Linked DNA regions of Homo sapiens. The protein of the gene in region 1 interacts with the protein of each later gene in a pairwise test. Each region holds a gene or a part of one and is shown on either strand. Other genes may lie near its edges.

The links. Proteins that work in one complex are often made in the same cells at the same time.
Region 2: the proteins of GPHN (region 1) and SPATS1 interact in a two-hybrid assay, tested with the Homo sapiens proteins (one large-scale study listed by BioGRID and IntAct).

The regions. Positions count from the first base shown.
Region 1 is NC_000014.9:67,176,147-67,179,224, reverse strand, and holds part of GPHN (gephyrin), read right to left. Parts: intron 1-3,078. UniProt on the Homo sapiens protein: Microtubule-associated protein involved in membrane protein-cytoskeleton interactions. It is thought to anchor the inhibitory glycine receptor (GLYR) to subsynaptic microtubules.
Region 2 is NC_000006.12:44,341,344-44,345,449, forward strand, and holds the start of SPATS1 (spermatogenesis-associated serine-rich protein 1), read left to right. Parts: upstream 1-1,306; 5' UTR 1,307-1,425; intron 1,426-1,752; coding exon 1,753-1,891; intron 1,892-4,106.

The DNA.
Region 1 (3,078 bases):
TTTTTAGAGATGGCATCTTGCTATGTTGCTCAGGCTGGTCTTGAACTCCTGGGCTCAAGCGATCCTGCCACCTGGGCCTCCCAGAGTGCTGGAATCATAGGCATGAGCCACCATGCCTGGCCACCTTATATTCTTAATACAGGAAGTCTAGGGGTTGGGTTGCTCTGGTGAAAAGAGAAAAGAAGGCTAAGAAGCTGGAGTTCAGCTTTTGTCTGTCTGGGAAAGGCTTTATTTCTCCCTCATTCCTGAAGGATAGCTTTGCTGCATATAGTATTTCTGGTTGGCATTTTTTTTTTCTTTCAGCACTTTACATACATCATTCCCTTCCCTTCTGGCCTTAAGGTTTCTGCAGATAAATCTACTGCTAGTCTAATGTGGACTTCCTTGTATGTGACTTGATGCTTTTCTTTTGCTGTTATTATAATTCTTTGTCTTTAACTTTTGACAAATTGGGAAGGATCTTTTGGGTTGAATACATTTGGAGACCTTTGAACTTCCTGGATCTGGATGTCTATATCTCTCAACAGATTTGGGAAGTTTTTCAGCTAGTATTTCATTAAATAAATTTCCTATCCTCTTTCCCTTCTCTTCTTCTTCTGGACTCTGATGATAAAAATATTTGTTGATTCAAATTCAGGAAATACAGAGAACACCACAAGGATATTCCTCCAGAAGAGCAACCCCAAGGCACATAATCGTCAGATTCACCAAGGTTGAAATGGAGGAAAAAATGTTAAAGGCAGCCAGAGAGAAAGGTCGGATTACCCACAAAGGGAAGCCCATCAAAATAACAGTGGATCTCTCAGCAGAAACCCTACAAGCCAGGAGACAGTGGGGGCCAATAATCAACATTCTTAAAGAAAAGAATTTTCAACCCAGAATTTCATATCCAGCCAAACTAAGCTTCATAAATGAAGGAGAAATAAAATCCTTTACAGACAAGCAAATGCTGGGAGCCTTGTCATCACCAGGCCTGCCTTACAAGAACTCCTGAAGGAAGCACTAAACATGGAAAGGAATAATTGGTACCTGCCACTGCAAAAATATGCCAAATTGTAAAGATCATTGATGCTATGAGGAAACTGCATCAACTAATGGGCAAAATAACCAGCTAGCATCATAATGACAGGATCAAATTCACACATAACAATATTAACCTTAAATATAAATGGGCTAAATGCCCCAATTAAAAGATACAGACTGGCAAATTGGACAGTCAAGACCCATCGGTGTGCTGTATTCAGGAGACCCATCTCACATGCAAAGACACAAATAGGCTCAAAATAAACATTTGGAGGAAGATCTAACAAGCAAATGGAAAGCAAAAAACAGCAGGGGTTGCAATCCTAGTCTCTGATAACCAACAAGGATCAAAAGAGACAAAGAAGGCCATTACTTAATGGTAAAGGGATCAATTCAACAAGAAGAGCTAACTATCCTAAATATATATGCACCCAATACAGGAGCCCCCAGATTCATAAAGCAAGCTCTTAGAGACCTACAAAGAGACTTAGACTCCCACACAATAATAATGGGAGACTTTAACACCCCACTGTCAATATTAGACAGATCAACAAGACAGAAAAGTAACAAGGATATCCAGGACTTGAACTCAGCTTTGGACCAAGCAGACCTAATAGACATCTACAGAACTCTCCACCCCAAATCAACAGAATGTACATTCTTCTCAGCAACACATCGCACTGATTCTAAAATTGACCACATAATTGGAAGTAAAACACTCCTCAGCAAATGCAAAAGAACAGAAATCACAACAAACTGTCTCTCAGATCACAGTGCAATCAAATTAGAACTCAGGATTAAGAAACTTACTCAAAACCACACAACTACATGGAAACTGAACAACCTGCTCCTGAATGACTACTGGGTAAATAATGAAATGAAGGCAGAAATAAAGATGTTCTTTGAAACCAATGAGAACAAAGACACGACATACCAGAATCTTTGGGACACGTTTAAAGCAATGTGTAGAGGGAAATTTATAGCACTAAATGCCCACAAGAAAAAGCAGGAAAGATCTAAAATCGACATCCTAACATCACAGTTTAAAGAACTAGAGGAGTAAGAGGAAATAAATTCAAAAGCTAGAAGAAGGCAAGAAATAACTAAGATCAGAGCAGAACTGATGGAGATAGAGACACAAAAAACCCTTCAAAAAAATCAGTGAATCCAGGAGCTGGTTTTTTGAAAAGGTCAACAAAATAGATAGACTCTTAGCAAGACTAACAAAGAAGAAAAGAGAGAAGAATCAAACAGATGCAATAAAAAATGATAAAGGGGATATCACCACTGATCCCACAGAAATACAAACTACCATCAGAGAATACTATAAATACCTCTATGCAAATAAACTAGAAAATGTAGAAGAAATGGATAAATTCCTGGACACATACACCCTCCCAAGACTAAACCAGGAAGAAGTCGAATCTCTGAATAGACCAGTAACAGACTTTGAAATTGGGGCAATAATTAATAGCCTACCAACCAAAAAAAGTCCAGGACCAGAAGGACTCACAGCCGAATTCTATGAGAAGTACAAAGAGGAGCTGGTACCATTCCTTCTGAAACTATTCCAAGGAACAGAAAAAGAGGTAATCCTCCCTAACTCATTTTATGAGGCCAGCATCATCCTGATACCAAAGCCTGGCAGAGACACAACAAAAAAAGAGAATTTTAGGCCAATATCCTGATGAACATTGATGCAAAAATCCTCAATAAAATACTGGCAAGCCGAATCCAGCAGCACATCTAAAAGCTTATCCACCACGATCAAGTGGGCTTCATCCCTGGGATGCAAGGCTGGTTCAACATATGCAAATCAATAGACGTAATCCATCACATAAACAGAACCAACGACAAAAACCACATGATTATCTCAATACATGCAGAAAAGGCCTTCGACAAAACTCAACAGCCCTTCATGCTAAAAACTCTCAATAAACTAGGTATTGATGGAATGTATCTCAAAATAATAGGAGCTATTTATGACAAACCCACAGCCAATATCATACTGAGTGGGCAAAAACTGGAAGCATTCCCTTTGAAAACCGGTGCAAG
Region 2 (4,106 bases), on another chromosome or scaffold:
GGGTAGAGAGGAAGGAGCCCCTAAATATCAGCAGGGGTGTAAATCACTAGGGGTATATGACATACATGTGCATAGAAAAAGGACAAGGAATAACCCCTAAATATCAGTAGGGGAGATTGTATTTTCTAGGAGGGCCACAAGATCCCCTGTCCCCTGTGCTCTTCATACAGTATGACCATGATGGAGAGGTGTGATCTAAGTTCCCTCTCCATGCATTTGTGACTATGGAGGCAATACAACTTCTGCCTGGTCCTCCTGGGATGCTCACGTTGGAAACTCAGACACTGGTGTGAGAAAGCACATGGAAACGCCACACATGGGTGAACTGGCGCTAACCCTGCTGACCTCAACTGACAACCAGCATCAATCACCAGACACATGAGTGAGGAAGCTCCTCTGTGACCTCTGACTGAGACCCTGTGAGAGACCCCAAGCATGAACAGCCTAGCTTAGCCTAGCCAACGACCAGGATCAGAAATTAAAAATGAATGTTGTTGTTTAAAACAACAGAGTTTGAGGGTGATTTGTTATATAGCAATAGCTATCCAGGAAAAAAGTATTTAACTTCTGTATGGTGAGATCATGGATATTAATAATACTTTTCCATATTTTCCAATATTTCTATAATGACCATTTATTTCTCTTATAATCAGTAACAAAAGAAGGGAAAACTTGGTCTAAACACGAATTTAGGGACTTAAACTAGACTTGGAGAAAAGCTTTCTATGCAAGATTTATTAGATACTGGAAAGGATGAGGAAGACAAATTTAAGTCAATATGATGGAAAGAGTGGTGGATTTGGAATGAGGAAACTTAGAAATGAATCTGTTTTCTGGGTGACCTTGCGCAAGCCTTTGCTAAAATTTGGTTTTCTATTTTGAAAAACGCAGCTGGCTGTTTAAGGAAGATAATATCCACCAGGGCGCCTGGCCCAGAAAAGGCGCTCTGTAAGTGGTAGGTGGATCCTGTCTAATCAACGCCAATTATAACCAGGCATCTGCAAGCTTTGTGGAGGGCGCATCTTTCACTGCTACCAGAGCCTACAGTTCTAATAATGAAAATTGCCTGGAAAAGAACCACAACTCTTAAAAAAAAAAAAAAAGTCCAAAATCACAAAGTGGCTTTTGCAGCGGTCCTTGCCTGTGACGCCGGGCCATGGCTGGAGCTCCTTGCTCCGTACCTCTCAGGAGCCTCCATCCTGTACCAATGGCCAGAGAGCCGGGGGGTGACAGACAGGGGGGCCGGCAGCCGAGCCAGGCAGGACGCTGCGCGCCGCGTTACTGGAGCCGGTGTCCCGGCAACCCCGGAACGCGCCTCTGTGGGAGAAGCAGGCGGCTGCGGTGTCCCTTTTGCCCTAGGCTCTCGGTTCTCAGGCCTCGGCGTGCGGCGTGCGTTCGGCAGTTCAGTTGCCAGTTGGTTCGTTGGTCCGTGGAGGCCTCTGAGCACAGACCCGGGCCTCCCCTGGGGAAGGGGGTGGGAAGACCCCGAGGTGGAAAAGAAGGAGCACCTTGAGCTGGATGGGGGCTGCAGCGAGCCTGGTTCGGGCTGGGGGCGGACTCGCTGGGGCTCCCAGGGCTTCCAAACCACGAAACGCCCAGGTGGAGGGAGTAAGGCTCCCGTTTAGAGGCCAGTCCTGCCCTCCTGACTTTCGGTGGCTTGTGGAATTTGTTTGTTTTGACTGATACCTTTCTTACGAGGGACTTTCTTTGTCTCTGGGTTGCTTCTAATATTTAAAATCATCATGGGCACAGATGAGTCCATCCATGCTCACTGGAAACAGTCCACGGGGCTGCCGTCTCCCCTCCATCTCAAGCACGACCTGCGGCAGACAGCTGGAGAAGGTTCCAGAAAAAAGGGACTCTGGCATGACCGAGGTGGAGAGGACCTACAGTTGAGTTCTAAGAAATCCAGGCTGTGGAGTTGGTGGCCACATCCAAGTATACTACACCCGGGGGCGGGGGCAGGTGGGGGGCACCATTTGAAGTTTAGAAGGAAGCTAGTTTGGGGGCATGTAAAAAGAGCTGCTTGAATAGTAGCTTATGTTTGTGCTAACCCAAGATTTGATTAGGCAGAGAGCACCACCAAAGCAGAGAGTCTCATAAATTACCTCACTGGATCTCACAGCAGTGGAGAAGTATATTACCTATGAGTAAAGGGAGCCAGAGATTTGACCTGCCCAGTGCTTGGGTTAATAAAAGGTGAGCCTGGGATTTGACATGAGCCTGGGATTTGACATGAGTCTGCCATACTTTCGAGCCTGTGTCCTTTCATCTTTCCTTTGCTCAGATATTAGTAGGTTTGTGTCATTGTTTATTGGATGGGACAGTTCAGGTGAGAATTATGAACACTCTAAAAATTAAATAATGGCTGGTAGCTCCATAATTGGTTAAGGCCGAGGAGGGTATTTGGGGGCACGTTTGCCTTTGGAGAACAGTGTCATGGCGCTGAACAGCCACAGTCTCCCAGAAAAGCTCAGAGTGCGCCTGCGCTCAAGTTCTCATTTACCTGTTATGGGTGAGTGGCCTGAGTGCTGCAAAAAGGGGTTGTGAAATATCCAGACTTTGCGGGATCAGATCTTAGCTTTCTCCCTGGTCTTCTGTATTCTGGGTGTGTGATCTCCTCATTCTCCTTCACAGTGGGGAGAAAGGAGGGAGGTACAACTCATTCCACCCAGCTATTAATATAAGCTAGGACCGTAGAGAAGGAGGAGCTGGAGGAGTTAGAGCTATTAATTGTCCAAGTGTGTCTGCAACAGCAAGGAGAAAAGGGTTCTGGGATTCTAACTTTAAGCTCCAGACCTTCCTGCAGTTTCCAGTTTGGGGTAAAGGAAGAAGCTGCTGTTTTAAGGATGTCCTAGGGAGGATCCATGTTTTCGAGTTAGGGGTAGCAGAAGGGTACCAGGTCCCAGACCACATTAATGAAAGACCCATGGTGTCCTTTCCTGCTGTGTAGGTGAGTCTATTCAGGAGAATACATCTGAGTTTAGCTTAACATGGAGTCTATGGATTTCAGCAAGGAAGGGGCTCCACAAACCAATTGAAGATACGTGTGTGTGTGTGTGTGTGTGTGTGTGTGTGTGCATTTTTCCATCAGAGAACCGATTGCTTTCATTACTGCTCATGGGGGAGAGGATAGAATCAAAAAACGGGTTAAAAACTTCTGTCCTTGATCCTTAGGCCCCTTGTGAAGCAGATAAGCAGGGGTGGGAAATAGTGTTTGGTTAAATGAGTATCCATGTTAAACAAACATGGCTTGATGTATTATTTTTCTCCCTGCCAGACAGAGCTATTATGACAATCAGCTGAGATGACAAACATATGAAAGTGCTTTGGTTATGTAAGGTGTTATTCCTGCCTAAAAAAATGGAAATAATTATCCTGAATTCCACAGATGGCAATAAAGAAACAGACTTTCTTCCAAATTCTCTTTTTTCCCTTGAATTCCTTTCTGGTTACCAGAACCTTCTCTTGGCCTTTAATTACATCATTTCTTCTTAATTTTGCAGTGTTTTAGAAACTTGTTAGAATTTTCTGACTTCTGGCTTACTTGACATTTATTGCGCTTGAATAACAATTTTCATGATAAATGGTGAAACTTTCAAGCAGGGTGTATCTCCTTAGTGTGTTTGTCTCCCCACAGCCTTCTGAGCTAGATGGGGGAGAGGGCAGCCACTGGGAGCTGGGCGTGGAGAAGTAATTGACTTGCTCAGAGTAGCTGGATGGTACTCTATGCAGTGGGAGCATCAGTATTAGTATTAGCGTCAGTATTAGTAAGTGTTCAGGCTTGCAATTCCAGCTTCTCTTCCAGCTAATCTTCTTTTACCAGGGGAGGGGCGGGGAGGCATCTTGAGAACATGTTTAAGTGTCTCCAGCTCAAGTTTGAGGTTGAGTTACTCTCAGGAAGATGCCGTAGTCAGCTTGATCTAGAGAGTGTGCTGTTTGCCAGTTTAGCAAGAGATTGCTCTTCCCATCCTTGTCCATCAGACAAGCTTTCCCCATTATAGTGGCCACAGGCCACTTTCTAGAGTGCTGCTGCCACAAAACTTTTCAAGCAAGCAAGGAAGTGTGCTAAAGTTTTAGGTGTGTTTCACTGCTCGCTGCTTAGG